Linked DNA regions of Homo sapiens. The protein of the gene in region 1 purifies or fractionates together with the protein of each later gene. This does not show direct contact. Each region holds a gene or a part of one and is shown on either strand. Other genes may lie near its edges.

Region 1 (7,887 bases):
ATACAAAATTAGATCTCAGATAACCAATCTTCTTATAGTATACCTACAAACTATGTACAGTTTCTGGAAAAAACAAGTGCTCTAAAATAACAAAGGAAAGCATCTGAAACAAAAAGATAAGGATAGGGTATCATTAGGCCATGATGTTTAAAGGACTGGTGCTCGGTCTATACGCTTAAGCAATAATCAACAGGGGAAACTTGTGCAATTCTCTAATTATGGGCATACCACAGCCACTTCTGCTTCTGAAACAAAAGCAGCTGGACAACCTGAAGAAAGGTAGCTTAGCTGAAATAACCTGGGCAAACCTGGCTGTACAGACACTACAGTTTCAGGGAAAAGAATCCATTCATAAAACTGATCTTTTAAACAATCTGGTTTTAAACAAAAAGGCACACTTATAGCAAATCTTCACAAAGGAGAGAGAATAATATGTTGAGTATTAACAGAAGAGAAGCATTAAAAATTACAAATAGACACATTTTAAACTAAACATCATTTATGTTTCTCCATGGGGAAAAAGATTTGCTTCTACAAAACTCACCTCCGTGTTCTAGAAAAACCCGAACACATCTTTCCTTTCCTCTTGCTGCAGAGAAATGAAGCAGAGTCCAGCCATTCGCATCTCGGCCATTCGGGGAATAGCCTTGTTCTAGCATCTTTCGCACTGTGTGGACATCCCCAGCAGCCACCGCGGCCTGAATCTGCAACTCTTCCTGGAGCTCAGGGTTCCTTCGACAATGATGGTGTAACATCCTAGCTGAGTCCACTTTTTACAAAGGATTCATTAGGTTACGGGGATCAGCCTTTAAGAAGAGAAGGTAGAAAAGGTAAAATTTAGAATAACTGGTTCCTGATACTGCATCTATTAAATATCACAGAACATTCCATTTGCTACATCAGTAAACCTTACTAATGACAGTGCATACTACTAGCTGGGTGTGGTGGTGCAAGCCTATAGTCCCAGCAACTCAGGAGGCTGAGGTGGGAGGATCACCTGAGCCCAGGGGATCAGTCCCAGCTACTTGGGAGGCTGAGGTGGGAGGACGACCTGAACCCAGGAGATCAAAGCGGCAGTGAGCCATGATAGCAACACTGCACTCCAGCCTGGACCACAGGGCAAGACCCCATCTCAAAAAAAAAAAAAAAAAAGTAGCAATATATTTTAAAACCTTAAGAATCTAAACAATCAGGCCAAGCACAGTGGCTCACGCCTACAGTCTTAGCACTTTGGGAGGCCAAGGCAGGCAGATCACTTGAGGCCAGGAGTTTGAGACCAGCCTGGCCAACATAGTGAAACCCTGTCTCTACCAAAAATACAAAAATTAGCCGGGTGTGGTGGCACATGTCTGTAATCCCAGCTATTTGGGTGGCTGAGGCACAAGAATTGCTTGAACCCGGGAGGTGGAGGTTTCATTGAGCTGAGATTGCGCCACTGCACTCCAGCCTGGGCAAGAGAGTGAAATTCTGTCTCAAAAAAAAAAAAAGAATCGAAACAATCTGGTGATTAACCACATGATCAAATTACTAAAAGGAAAAGTAGTACAGTGAATTCTCATACTCTCTAATAGGTCACAAAAAAGGACTGTACTAAAACCCAACATACAATGAAATATCTGGCCAGGCACAGTGGCTCACGTTTGTAATCCCAGCACTTTGGGAGGCCAAGGAAAAAGGGACCACTTGAGCCCAGGAGTTCAAGACCAACCTGGACAACACAGTGAGACCCTGTCTCTACAAAAAAATACAAAATTAAAAAATTAGCCAGGCATGGTAGTGTGCACCTGTAGTCCCAGCTACTCGGCAGGTAGAAGCAGGAGGATCACTTGAGCTTGGGAGGTTGAGGCTGCAGTGAGCTGTGATTGTGCCACTGCACTCCAGCCTGGGATACAGAGCAAGACCCTGTCTCAAAAATTAAAATAAGAAAGTAAAATGAGACCTCCTTCATGGAAACAGTAACAGTCCAAAGTGAAATGGTAAAAAGTTGCATCTTACATGTGTGTATACAAAAACATTTTTAGTGTGTTTTTAAGCTTTTAACTACATACAGAAAACTAACAAGCTTCCAGAAAGCCACTCCAGGTGTGCTAACTGGAAGGAATAGATTAGACTCATCTCTTAACTAGTAGTCCCTTTGTTTCTAAACATTTTTTAAACTGTGATGAAGCCCTTTAAAGACATTTCTGTTCTCATATGTAGGTTAGACATATCAGGATAATCTTGCTACCAACAATCGTTTATCTTGCAAAACTTACTATAGACTGTACAAAAGTAAACTTAGGCCTAGGTTAAGTCAAATCATTACAACTTAAGAATACAAATATCCTATGTTGTTTTATACATAGAAAATGGTGTCATTACCTACTCCTAAGTATCACAACTAAGTGCTCAAATTTAAAAATATCAAGCTACTTCTACAAATAGCTATTTCCTCAGAGAAATATGGGAATAAACAAGATTGCCTCTTTTTTTTTTTTGAGACGGAGTCTTGCTCTGTCACCCAGGTTGGAGTGCAGTGGCGCGATCTGAGCTCACTGCAACCTCCACCTCCCGGGTTCACACCTTTCTCCTGCCTCAGCCTCCCAAGTAGCTGGGACTACAGGCGCCTGCCACCACGCCCGGCTAATTTTTTTGTATTTTTAGTAGAGACGGGGTTTCACCGTGTTAGCCAGGATGGTCTCGATCTCCTGACCTCGTGATCCACCAGCCTCGGCCTCCCAAAGTGCTAGGATTACAGGCGTGAGCCACTGCGCCCGGCCACAAGATTGCCTCTTATTTCTTCTCTCAATTCCTTCACAAAAATTGTCCCTTCTTAGAAATTTTAAAATGAGAATCCTTTCAGAATAGGTTTTTGCTTATTCTGTTATGAGAGAAAATGCTGAAGACCGTCTGAAGGAATTAATGGAAACATACTATGCTCACAATCATCCTTAACAGCTTTTCTTTTTAATTAAGTGATTATGTTGGCACTTAAACGAGGCCTACCATGCAAGAAAAAGACTGAAACAATATCAAAACAAACCTGGGTTTTCTTTAGTGAGTGGTGTATTTAGTATACATTAACTGATTTAAGAGAGAAGTAAAAGTTAAGTGAGCTTTCCCCCGGAACAACACAGATGACCAATGACCCTGAGGCAACTTGCCTTATGGAAGAGTGTCCCTTCTCCTGATGTACGGATTGCCTAGTAACCATTGTGCACGTACAGCATCGTGGGGAGGGGCTTCAAAGTACGTCCAGGCTACAGAGCAAAAAAGCCTTCTTAACCTAGAAACAAATAAAAATAACAATCATAGGAAAATTCCTTAAAATAATAATCATAGCTGTCTGCATAGTCTACCTTTTGATGAATGTAAACTTCAGTGCTTTACAATAAATCTATAGAGCAGAGAAAGAACTCAGATCAACTCTTACAGAAAATAATCTTGTTACATATGTTCATCTCCAATAAATACTATTTAGTTTCAGGCTTTTCCCCCCAAAATGCAGCTATTTGAGAAAGAGCAAATAAAAAAAATAATAAATCACATATTTGGAATTTGGATGCAAGCATAGATTCTTCATTTTCCTCTATTGAGAATACAGTTTCAGACTTGCTTTATCTGAATTACTTTTTAACCGACACCATAAGTCACCTGCACTTTCTAAACAGGACTTAAATGAGAATACGTGTGCATGAAATATAATAGGTGGCCTGGGTTAAAATAAAATCTATGACAACTAAAAGGAGACTGTGTCTTTAAATGCATTTTCTTCATGTGCCCTAAAGGCATCAAGTCAATCACTTTGAAATTGTTATTCCTTTATGCATACACCGAACTAGATAAAACATTAACAACAGCCTTGCCAGGTTCCCCATGTGAATTCTGAATAAACTCTCTCCACAACTAAAAGAAAAGGGATCTTTCTTCGTGTCAATTAAATTCCAGCTCTGTTAATTCCAACAAAGTTAAGGACACAAAGTGACTTCCACATAAAACTCTAGGAATTACATATTGGGAGAACTACTACCTCATCCCCTGACGGTGGGTGAGCATCACTTAAACCTTCAGACAAGAAAAGGTCGGGCCACTTAGCAACCTGGCCCGCAGCAGTTGTATGTCCTGCTGGCTGCACACCAGAATTTTCAACCAATCCAAATTGGTATAGTCCACTTCTCTCTTTTCCTCTATTCTCATCTACTTTTCCTTGACAAACCTCTTCAAGGAAGGTAAAGAGTTTGCCAACTTGCCCTTGGAAATAAAATTTGTTTTAAAATTCTATTATTATTTCTAAATAAATGAGGCCGACGAGATCAGAACAACTCCTACAAAGCAAGCTGTGAAACATGCAAAGCGATCCTTATACAAATGGCCGATTCTAAGACTGGAACATCACACGGTGCCAGAAAGCAAGGAGGTGCTCAAAGAAAGACACCACGGTGGGGGAGGTCAAAGGGACACAGGAGCCAACTGAAAGATCCCTCAATAGCCAAAGAGGGAATAACTGCAGCAATACTTAAAACAGTACCAGATGACAAAGTACAAAGTGGATATCAAGAGTTCACATTGATACAAATAACTGATTCGATAAATAAAGGGGGAGAAACACATCTGTTGTTCAGAATTCCAAATAATTTGTATAGGTAGTCTCTCCTCAAGGTGGTGACAAACATGTTAATATAAGATGTTAGTAGGAGAAACTGAGTATCGAGCATGTAGGAACTCTGCACAGCCTCAGTAATTGTTCTGTAAATCCAAAGCTTTCCTACAATAAAGTTTATTTTAAAATGCAAATCAGTGTCCCCAGTGATGAGCCTCACACATTGCCACAAATGAATATGCCACCACTTTTCACGAGCTACATCTACATTTCAAGAGTGAACATCACTGGACATCTCACTTCCAAGTGTGTCCTCAGCACCCCTTACTTCCCATAAGAAGTAAACATGACCCAACATAGCTTCAAGCCTGAAGAATCCTTGTGGTTGTTGCTGGCTTCCAACTATCCACCGCCACTTCCATGGAGGCAGCTGGAAGTGTCAGGGAAGACGGCATGAGAGCTGAGCAGAATAGGAAATGGTGTTAATTTATTAACAATATCAAGAAAAGGCCTGGTGGTAAAAGATGAAGTGGCCAAACTATTTCTCCCAACAAGAAAGATTCACAGGTGGTAGCAACTTGTGCTAATTCCATATGAGCTCCTTCAGTCAAACAAACAAATGTCTACAGAATGCTTGACACTTAACGTGGCACAGTGATAGGGTTTGGCCACAGGTAGCACCTCCAGGTGGTATTCCAATAGAGTTCTGCATACTTAAAATGAATTTTTTAAAATCCCAGACATTTTAAGATTATTTTTCTCTTTTCTGAAAATACCAAGTGCTATAAACAATAACCACAGGTTTAAACCAAAAAAGTACTCCCTGCATGTACTAGTGCATCAACGTTTACCAGAAAAAAACATACACACACGTCATGCACACATGATCCCTGTCAGCTACACTGCTTTGAATTACGACAGAAAATAATTTATTACAAAAGACCCCCAAATAGTCAAAAGCATCAACAAGTAATTTCCTCCTGGTGTTACTTTATGAGAGCTGCGCCTGACAGAGTCGAGTCACGTGTATAAATGAAGAAAAGACTATGGAGCTGAAAAGCAAACACAATATCTAGTGGTAAATATGTCTATTAAAAAACAACAGAGGAAGTCCAGAGATGAGAATGGAAGAAAGCCTATTTTCCCTCAGGGAGTTTATTAAAAAACTGATAGCTCATGGAAGTCACCTATAAAAAGAAAAGGAATATAGCAAAGGAAGTAATTTTCTTTTTTTTTTTTTTGAGACGGAGGCTCGCTCTATTGCCAGGCTGGAGTGCAGTGGTGCGATCTCGGCTCACTGCAACCTCTGCCTTCAGGGTTCAAGCGATTCTCCTGCCTCAGCCTCCTAAGTAGCTGGGACTACAGGAGCGTGCCACCACACCCGGCTAATTCATGTATTTTTAGTAGAGACGAGGTTTCACCATGTTAGTCAGGATGATCTCGATCTCTTGACCTTGTGATCCGCCCGCCTCGGCCTCCCAAAGTGCTAGGATTACAGGTGTGAGCCACCGCGCCCGGCCAGGAGGTAATTTTGTAAGTTATGTATGTTTAGTTATGTTTTTGTGGACTCAGGAGCTACTGATACTCTGAGGGTATGATCTTCAGAAATTTTATTCTAGCTTTCACAGTCACAAGGAAAAAAAAAGCAAACAAACAAGGAAGACTTTCTTTTCCACTTGGGGTCAAAAGAAAAGAATCTAGGCTTCCAAGCTTTAATACTATTGACCATATTAAAAACTACTAATTTAGAAATTCAAGTACATTACCATCTAATTTCCATATAGATGCCAAGTGAAGTTCATTTAGTTAAACCCAAAACTTCTTGCTTCACATAGTTAAGTCTATATGATAGAACAGCGTGAAGAATAAAATAAACATAAAACAAAATATGCTTAAGACCTGTCCGAAGTTACAAAACCTTCACCAAATTTGACCATATTTCCCAAATCTCCTTTGGCATAAATGATTAGACATTAATGACTTTTTGCATATTATTATCATTAAAAGTCCACACATTTCTGATTAAGTGATGCAAACTGAACTGTGCTTTCTGATGTCACATAAACTTAGCAACAAGATAATGGCTTATTACTCAAAGAAAGAAATAAGCATTTCTTTGCAAAGTAAACAAAAATACATGCTGGTAAGAAAATAAATGCAATCAGCAACTCCGACGACATTGGGTCTGAGAAAAAAAAAACAATCCTTCAATGGTTCACATTCACAAGATCTAAGAGGGAAGATGGATGGAAAAACACTACACGGCCGTACCAAAACGGAGAACATGGCTGAGATGCCTGTTCACAAGCTCTACTGATATGATCAGGAGCCTGGAACCCAAAATAAGGTATAAGTGTTATTTTAGTGTCACTCAACAAAGTATAGCATAGTGGTTATGATCCAAAACAAATAAAGGTATTAGTATTTCCTCCAAATTACTGGGCCTCCATATAACATAAGGATTTATTACCATGCACAACTTATCCATGACCCACATAAATTCCAGCAGAGAAACCAATAATTTTCATGAAGTGTGGATGAAGCAACAGAAGAAATTTTGGACTTATCCAGACCCAACTCAAAGCTTAAATCACAAGTATTATAATGATGAGGTCCTGTCAATATTATCTTATTAACCTAGGTCTGCCAACACCATCTTTGTAGCCTCATGTGTCAATTCCTAGAAAGTTTGCAAGAAAGGAGACAATCATCCTACGTAGGGAGGGCATTCAGGGGATTATGATGTGGAAGGCTGAAAGTCAGGTAACAGATATGCCCATATAAATCATATCTGGCTTTAGACTTTTTAGGGATGGTGTGTATCTCTATGTCACCAAAGTTAAACGTGAACAAATTAAAGAGATACTGTATGTGTCATAGTATTAACTAATTGTAAATGACATCACTTTATGTGTAAAGAATGTAAGTACTGGCCACAGTATACTAAAGATGCATCATTGCATATCTTCAATTAAAATCAATTATTCTCCCTACGTGATTATAAATCTATATTTGGTGACGAAATAAATTGGATTTTTTTTAAGCCACATGATTGGCAATAGAATTAATACAAAGCTAACTGCCAGGTTAAAAAATGTAAGCTACCTAACTAGCCATGTTGGTAAATAAATACCCAAATTAAATATTCTAAATGCCTGGTATAATCTAGACCAAATACTCTCAGTCATTCTGATATTAGAAACATGACAGATGTTGACAATTTACACATATTCCCTAATCTTAGAAAAACTATTAAAAAATGAGATGATCCATGAAATACGATTTAAGCAATGAGAATGAACTGGCTG
Region 2 (7,887 bases), on another chromosome or scaffold:
AGATGGCTCAGGACAATGGCCAGAGGTGTTAGGACGGCCTGAAGATAGTTCTAAGTTTTTGATGGTGTTTGCAAGGAAGAGATGAAATCCGAGCTTTAGGAAAATGAACTAGTGGTATTTAGCGGGAGTGATGAGTGGTACAGAGAATATGAGTTCAAGAGCTCTTTGCAGTATTCCAGGGAAGACCTAAGTTACAAGCACTGAGAAGGGAGCAGAGTGGATGATTCAGAAGATAATATTATGCAGAATACATAGAATTTGGGAATGTTTTTGGATATGAAGAACAAAGAAAAGGATAATGTCCAAGATGACTGAGTTTTCAGGCTGATTGTGGGGTGAATGATGGTATTAATTGAAAAAATTATACAAGGGGTGGGATAATTTGTAAAGGAAAATGGTAAGGTCATTTTGGGACATCATGAGTTTAAGATGATGGTGTACCATCTAGGTGGGGCCCACAGTGGAAATGCAGGGCTGGAGTTTATGAGAAAAACGAAGTTAGGGGCAATGAAAGCATTGGGATAGGATGCCCAGATAGCATAGCACAGTGACAGGGGCCTCCTTCTCACTTAACACTCTTTCCTCAGCAAGAGATACTTGGAAAAAAATCCTTGAATTAATTCCAGGAGGATGAGTTTAACCACAGATTATAAACTTACTTCAGGTATGATCATCCACACTACTAAAAATATGTCACAGTGTGCTACAACTTATTTCAGATTTCCTTGTAAAGATGGAATCACACCAGAGCAACATTTTTCAAGATAAATTAGTTTTAAAGTTTCTGTTTGCATTCAAATATAGTTACTGCCAAGAAAGCAATAGAGGTATAACTGTATTTATTCTCTGAGACCCCTTTGTGTTTGAGCTGTAGTTGGCCTGCTAGCCTTTGCAGATATAGTAGAAAGCATTTTCTTTTCTTTTTTTTTTTTTGAGACAGAGTCTCGCTTTGTTGCCCAGGCTGGAGTGCATTGGCGCGATCTTGGTTCACTGCAAGCTCTGCCTCCCAGGTTCATGCCATTCTCCTGCCTCAGCCTCCCGAGTAGCTGGGACTACAGGCGCCTGCCACCACACCCGGCTAATTTTTTGTATTTTTTTCTTTTTTTTTTTTTTTTAGTAGAGACAGGGTTTCACTGTGTTAGCCAGGATGGTCTCGATCTCCTATAAAGCATTTTATTTAAATTGAATTCAATAAACACTTTCACATATCCTTTCAGTATGGAATTACAGTGAATGAGCTTATATTAGTTAGTCTGCTTTGCATTGAATTGCTTTATTGCTATAAAGGAATACCTGAGACTGGGTAGTTTATAAAGAAAAGAGTTTTATTTGGCTCATGATTCTGCAAGAGTATCCAAGAAGCATGGTGCCAGTATCTGCTCCTGGTGAGACCTCAGGAATTGTCTGCTCATGGCAGAAGGCAAAAGGGGAGCAGGCATGTCACATGGCGAGAGAGGGAGCAAGAGAGAGGGGAGGAGGGAGGTGCCAGACTCTTTAACAACCAGACCTCACATGAACTAGAAGAGCGAAAACTCATTACCATAAGGACTGCACTGAGCCATTCACGAGGGATCCAGCCCCATGACCCAGCACCTCCCATCAGGCCCCACCTCCGACATTGGGGATCATACGTCAACATCAGATTTGGGGGGACAAATATCCAAACTCTTATCAGAAATTTAAACAAAACAAAAAACTAATGGATACCACATTAATAATCTTGATGTCCTCTCAGGATTGGTAAGATGGGATACTACCCAGTGTGATTTTTAAGATCTGATTTAATATAAGTTTTATGTTAGTTTCATAAGACTTTTTTAAAGCAGCCTTTATAAGGATGCATTTATAAGGATGTGAAATGTTGTATCTTGATTTCCAGGCAATGCTTATAATCAAGAAGAACGTGTTGTTTGTGCTGGCTATGACAATGGGGATATCAAACTATTTGATCTCAGAAATATGGCATTACGGTGGGAGACAAACATCAAAAATGGGGTAAAGTACATTCTGAGGCTTTTTGGTTTCTCTGAGCATGTTTCCATTCACCTCTGAACTATTACAAAAGGAAAACACCTCTAGTAACTCATCTGAGTCAACCCCTCTGCCAACGGTTCTTAACTTTTTGAGGCCAAATCCGTTTGAGAATCTAATGAAAATCCTGGATCCTCTCTTCAGAAAATGAGCTCACACCCACATGTGGTTTGCACAGCGTTGGGGGAGTCACCAGCCCCTTCAGCCTGTCTGCAGACCCCTGTGGGCCATGTAGTAAGATTTCAAAATAAGCAAGTAAAAGGTCTTTTTATGCCAATATCAGAAAGCCTGAAACAGTAGTCACCTCCCCAGCTCAGATTTTTGGTTCCTTAGTTGTGCACCTTTAGCAAAGAATGTGGTTTCCTCCTGTTTTCTACTGTTAGCCTTTACTTAACTGTTAAATAATGTAAAAAGTTAAATAATGATTCCCCAAAGGCATTCACTGAGCATGGGAACCCAAGATTGTTTTGTTGATCTTACTAATGGAAAAAAAAAATGGGTTTTTTGTTTGTTTGTTTGTTTGTTTGTTTTGAGATGGAGTCTTGCTCTGTCGCCCAGGCTGGAGTGCAGTGGCGCGATGTTGGCTCACTGCAAGCTCTGCCTCCCAGGTTCATGCCATTCTCCTGCCTCAGCCTCCCGAGTAACTGGGACTACAGGCGCCTGTCACCATGCCCGGCTAATTTTTCATATTTTTTAGTAGAGACGGGGTTTCATCGTGTTAGCCAGGATGGTCTCAATCTCCTGACCTCATGATCTGCCTGCCTTGGCCTCCCAAAGTGCTGGGATTACAGGCGTGAGCCACTGTGCCTGGCCAAAAAAAAAAAAAATGTTTTTTTTTTGAGACAGAGTCTCACTCTGTCGCCCAGGATGGAGTGCAGTGGCATGATCTTAGCTCACTGCAACCTCTGCCTCCCGGGTTCAAGCAATTCTCCTGCCTCAGCCTCCCAAGTAGCTGGGACTACAGGCGCACGCCACCACGCCTGGCTAATTTTTGTATTTTTAGTAGAGACAGGGTTTCACCATGTAGGTCAGGCTGGTCTTGATCTCCTGACTTCGTGATCCACCTGCCTTGGCCTCCCAAAGTGCTGGGATTACAGGCATAAGCCACCGCGCCTGGCTGGAAAAAAATTTTTATGGGAAAAGTTAAAAGATAAATGATTGTTGGAGTGCTTTCACATTATCTGACCATTTTAAAGCTGTTTTACTTAGTATAAAAGAGCCTCCTGAGTAATACTGGTGAGACTACCAATAATAAGTATTCTCTGTTTTCAGGTGTGTAGCTTGGAGTTTGACAGAAAAGACATAAGTATGAATAAGTTAGTAGCCACATCTCTGGAAGGAAAGTTCCATGTTTTTGACATGAGAACACAGCATCCAACCAAAGGTTTTGCCTCTGTTTCAGAAAAGGTAAATATGAGGGAAATGTCTTTCTATGAAGAAGAATGATAGCTTGGTTTAGACTGATAAGTAGAATTAGTCACCAAGGTTTCTTCCAGGTCTTTATGTGAAGGGAGCTATTTTTGATATATTCCTGTGAGATCTTGACAAGTTTTTCTGTGCAAAGAGTACTTCCCCAAAGTTTATCAACTTTAGACTTCTTGATTATAATAAAGATCTCAGGTAGGAATCTTATTTTGTAGTTTAGGAGCAATTAGAAGAAACCTAGCTGATATTAGGAATTTGATCAACAAAACCCAGCCTGGTGTTTCCTAATAAGTATATAATATTTGTGCTAATACCTGGTTATATATTTTTCAAAATAAACTATATGTACATGATGTCATTTCATTACACTTTGTTTTATATTCCAGTTTGCTATATTAAATGAAATTATTTGAATCACTGAGTACTGTGATTATAGTAAATGTTCAAAAATATTTACTTACTTAACTTTGCCTTGCATTTGAGGTAGCTGAGAGGGAAATGCGGTATTATGGCGTTAGACCAATAGATGAGGAAAGCAGGGCAAAGGGAAAATACTGGTTTAAAAAAAAGATAGTTTCTGGACTGGGGGGATTACAGAAAATTCATGCAGAAAGGTCCTGTCATTCACAAGAAATGGATTGGAAATGTGATTTGAACTTCCTCAAGTATAAAAAGAAAGAAAGATCAGTTACAGATTCCTTGTTTCCATAAGATTAAAATATACAAGTTGCTCAGGAAGTGAGAACTTACTCCGTTGCTTCTCTCTCTCCTGTGGATTCAGTAGGATTTCTTGAACCTTTCTATTTTGTCTCATTATTATTATTGTGTGTAAATTATTGTCACTTCCTTATGAAAACCAAATTCTTAACAAGATAGCTATAAATTATAATATTGGTTTGCTTTTGTCATTTCAGAATATATTAAGTATCTATCAACAACATAAATCACTTTACTAAACTGTTCCATGTATAATTTGCAACACATATTTCATTATCTATACATAATAGTGTCATCTCTGGTTTTTTGTTTTGTTTGTTTGGCTTTTTTTTTTTTTTTTTTTCTGGAGACAGAATCTTGCCCTCTTACCCAGGCTGGTGTGCAGTGGCATGATTATGGCTCACTGCAGTCTCAAACTCCTGGGCTCAAGTGATCCTCCTGCCTCAGCCTCCCAAGTAGCTGGGAGTACAGGCACACGCCACCATATCTGGCTAATTAGATTTTTTTTTTTTCATAGAGTCAGAGTCTTGCTGTGTTGCCCAGTCTGGACTTGAAACCTGACCTCAAGTGATCCTCCTGCCTCAGCCTCCCAAAGTGCTGGGATTATGGGCGTGAGCCACTATACCTGGCCCAGTTTTTTAAAATTATATTTAGTTAATCCAGTAATTGCTAAATCTGCCAAATAGAAGACTCTGGTGTATTTTAAGAGGTCATTTCCCCTCTTGCTTTTTGTGTTTTTCTCAACTTCCTGAAGAAGAAGAGAAGTTTAAGCTACAAAATAAAATGTTTCGACAGCTTGAACCTAATCACTGAGAGACTGTTACACACTCAAAATGTGTGTTTTGAGATATGAGTCTTTATCTGCTAATGGTAATTCTCTCAAAAGACTATTGAAATCAAAGGTCAAGACTAATCACTCACTAAAATGTGGTGTACCACGATAGCCAGCCCCACTGCTTCTACAAAGCAGCAGTCATTCATTCCCTCCCGCCTCCTTTCTCTCTCTCCCTCTGTCTCTCTCTCTCTCCTAAGTTCCCCCCAGTTAATGCAGTGGCGCCGGGATGGATTTACTGGCTGCTTTTGAGGTGCTAACAACCTGTTAACCTTCCAGTTGCTGGTTTTTAATCTTTTAGTCTAATGTGAATGATAAAGACCTTAGCTTATTATGACCATAAACATTGTCTGTAAGTCCTCATGGTCCTTATTTTGAAGACTGGACAGGTAAATGGCAATAAATTGAAAATAAGGCTCTGGGAGCTGTTAGTTAAATTTCGGTCTATAAATTTTAGTTAAAATTCAGTCTATGTACTTATTGCTGAGTTTTGCTGTGAACCTCAAACTGCTCTCAGAACTAAAGTGTATTTTTTTAATTCAGTCCACATTTTTCGTATATATAAACAAAAGTATATGTTTTTATATTTTGAGTGTTTTCCCCCTCAGAATGAACTAGAGGTATTTAAATATGTAAAATCTATTTTCATAAGTATTTGATACTATAAACTTAAATGGATTTTAATACCTGTCTTTTTAAAAATCCAGTAGAACTTTGTTTCATAAAGCAATAAAGAAAAATGATGCTTTTTCTAATTTCTTATGTGTTCCTATAAATCTCTATAGCCATTATAAAGAGATGTGCCAGAAAATAACCTTAATTACTTTTATAACCATTGAAATTATAGTTGTAAGAGTTTTTTATTTGCAGCGTTTCTCTTCCAGGGCACCATTTAGCATATAAACCAGTTGTATGCCTCTTGTTCTATTTAGGCTCATAAATCTACTGTGTGGCAGGTCCGACACCTGCCGCAGAACAGGGAGCTCTTTCTGACAGCTGGAGGCGCCGGCGGCCTTCACCTCTGGAAGTAGTAAGTCTGCCAGTGCACACTGCTCCTTTTAAAGTTACCTGTGGGTGTAAAGTAGGATTAGATTGAACTTTTTTTTCTTTTTTTTCCTGCTTTGACTTAGTTCATTTTGATATGATTTAAAATTTCATGGTGTTACATAACTTGTTTTCTAAGCATTTTGTATGAATATACTTTACACTTAGTAGAGTGTACACTAATCTTCTTTTGATACATTTTAGTATATCATTTTAGTTGTGTCTTCTAAGTATGAAAAAGTTGGCCCAAGACTTTTATCAGATACTATCTTGAAGTGATTAGAACACTCACTGCCTCTAAAAGATGGGGAAAGGGTTCCTTGCCTAAATTTAGATAACATCATTGTGATAGACCCCAACAGAGCCTGAGGCTGCTGATTGGTCTCCAGGAAAGATCTTATCACTGAATTTGCTTTCTGCATATCTAGGCAGGGTGAGTTACAATGAAAGCTTTTACTATGCACACCACTTTCTGAATCCCAAGGGCGCTAACATCACAGATACTAGATCATTTAAAAGGTCTGATATCATTGCTCAGGGTTGGCCTGTGAAAAGGAAACAAAACAAAACAAAACAAAAATTAAAGGTCTGATAAAAATTGTGAGTTAATGGTATTTCTGAATACTTTATTAGCTAAGCAATATGTACTTGGAGGGGAAAAATTATATCTTTCTTAAACATCACTCAGGGAAAAAACAGCAAGCCCATAAATGAAGGATATTTCAAAAATAAAGTTTCATTAATAATGTAAGAAGAAAAACACCATCCTCAATATATCTGGGACTTTCACATTTATAAAATTCTTCTCTATTAGCTCCTTTGAGAAGCTGGAAGGGGTTCTGAAAAACAGGGCTACAGTTGGAAAGTACTTGTTAAAGTACTGTGTGCAGGGATACCGCTGACAAAAAGCAGATCGAATGCTTTATCTTATATTTTCTGACAAAGTCTTGCTCTGTCACCCAGGCTGGAGTGCAGTGGCATGATCTCGTCTCACCGCAGACTCCACCTCCAGGTTCAAGGGGTTCTCCTGCCTCAGCCTCCCGAGTAACTAGGATTACAGGTGCCCGCCACGACGCCTGGCTAATTTTTGTATTTTTAGTAGAGACGGGGTTTCACCATGTTGGCCAGGCTGATCTCGAACTCCTGACCTCAGGTGATTCACCTGCCTCGGCCTCCCACAGTATTGGAATTATGGGTGTGAGCCACTGCACCCAGCCAGAGTGAACACTTTAGATCGAAGCAGTATGATTATGGCAAAACCGGGTCTCTACTAAAAATACAAGAACTAGCCGGGCGTGGTGGCACACGTCCCAGCTACTTAGGAGGCTGAGGCACGAGAATTGCCTGAATCTGGGAGGTGGAGGTCTCAGTGAGTCGAGATCGCACCACTGCACTCCAACCTGGGTGACAGAGTGAGACAGAGCGACAGAGACTTTTTCTGTCTCAACAAACAAACAAACAAACAAACAACCAATATGGTTTCTGAGTGAAAAGCAGAGGAAAAGTTTGAGTCGTTCTGGGAGAATGTGGGGTAGAGAGATCACTTGCTACTTTCCCTTCTTCTAGCACCTCTGCCTGTTGTTCTTCCCTGATTCTTCCATCCCGGTCTCCTCCCCACGTTAGACTCTGCCAGTCCCCTTAGTGAAGCCATGTGGTGGCACATCACTATTTTACTTGGTGACCAAACTCTTTAGGCTGCTCGCTTGAAGAACTAGTCCCAGTTTTCTTTGTAATCTACACATGGATTTGTATTCCATGAGGCACACGAACACTTTCGCAGCTGGAATTTTTTACTACAGCGGATTTAGTTCCGTCAGTAAAGTTAGGTCTGTATGCAA

Evidence for each region. Proteins that work in one complex are often made in the same cells at the same time.
Region 2: the proteins of ASB7 (region 1) and DNAAF10 purify together in Homo sapiens (affinity purification with mass spectrometry; 2 studies listed by BioGRID and IntAct, with this or other methods). This does not show direct contact.

The regions. Positions count from the first base shown.
Region 1 is NC_000015.10:100,605,085-100,612,971, reverse strand, and holds part of ASB7 (ankyrin repeat and SOCS box protein 7), read right to left. Parts: intron 3,266-7,887; 5' UTR 3,144-3,265; intron 807-3,143; 5' UTR 756-806; coding exon 545-755; intron 1-544. UniProt on the Homo sapiens protein: Probable substrate-recognition component of a SCF-like ECS (Elongin-Cullin-SOCS-box protein) E3 ubiquitin-protein ligase complex which mediates the ubiquitination and subsequent proteasomal degradation of target proteins.
Region 2 is NC_000002.12:68,132,850-68,140,736, reverse strand, and holds part of DNAAF10 (dynein axonemal assembly factor 10), read left to right. Parts: intron 1-1,879; coding exon 1,880-1,995; intron 1,996-3,303; coding exon 3,304-3,438; intron 3,439-5,937; coding exon 5,938-6,035; coding exon of another isoform or gene 6,036-6,036; exon of another isoform or gene 6,037-6,653; intron 6,654-7,887. UniProt on the Homo sapiens protein: Key assembly factor specifically required for the stability of axonemal dynein heavy chains in cytoplasm.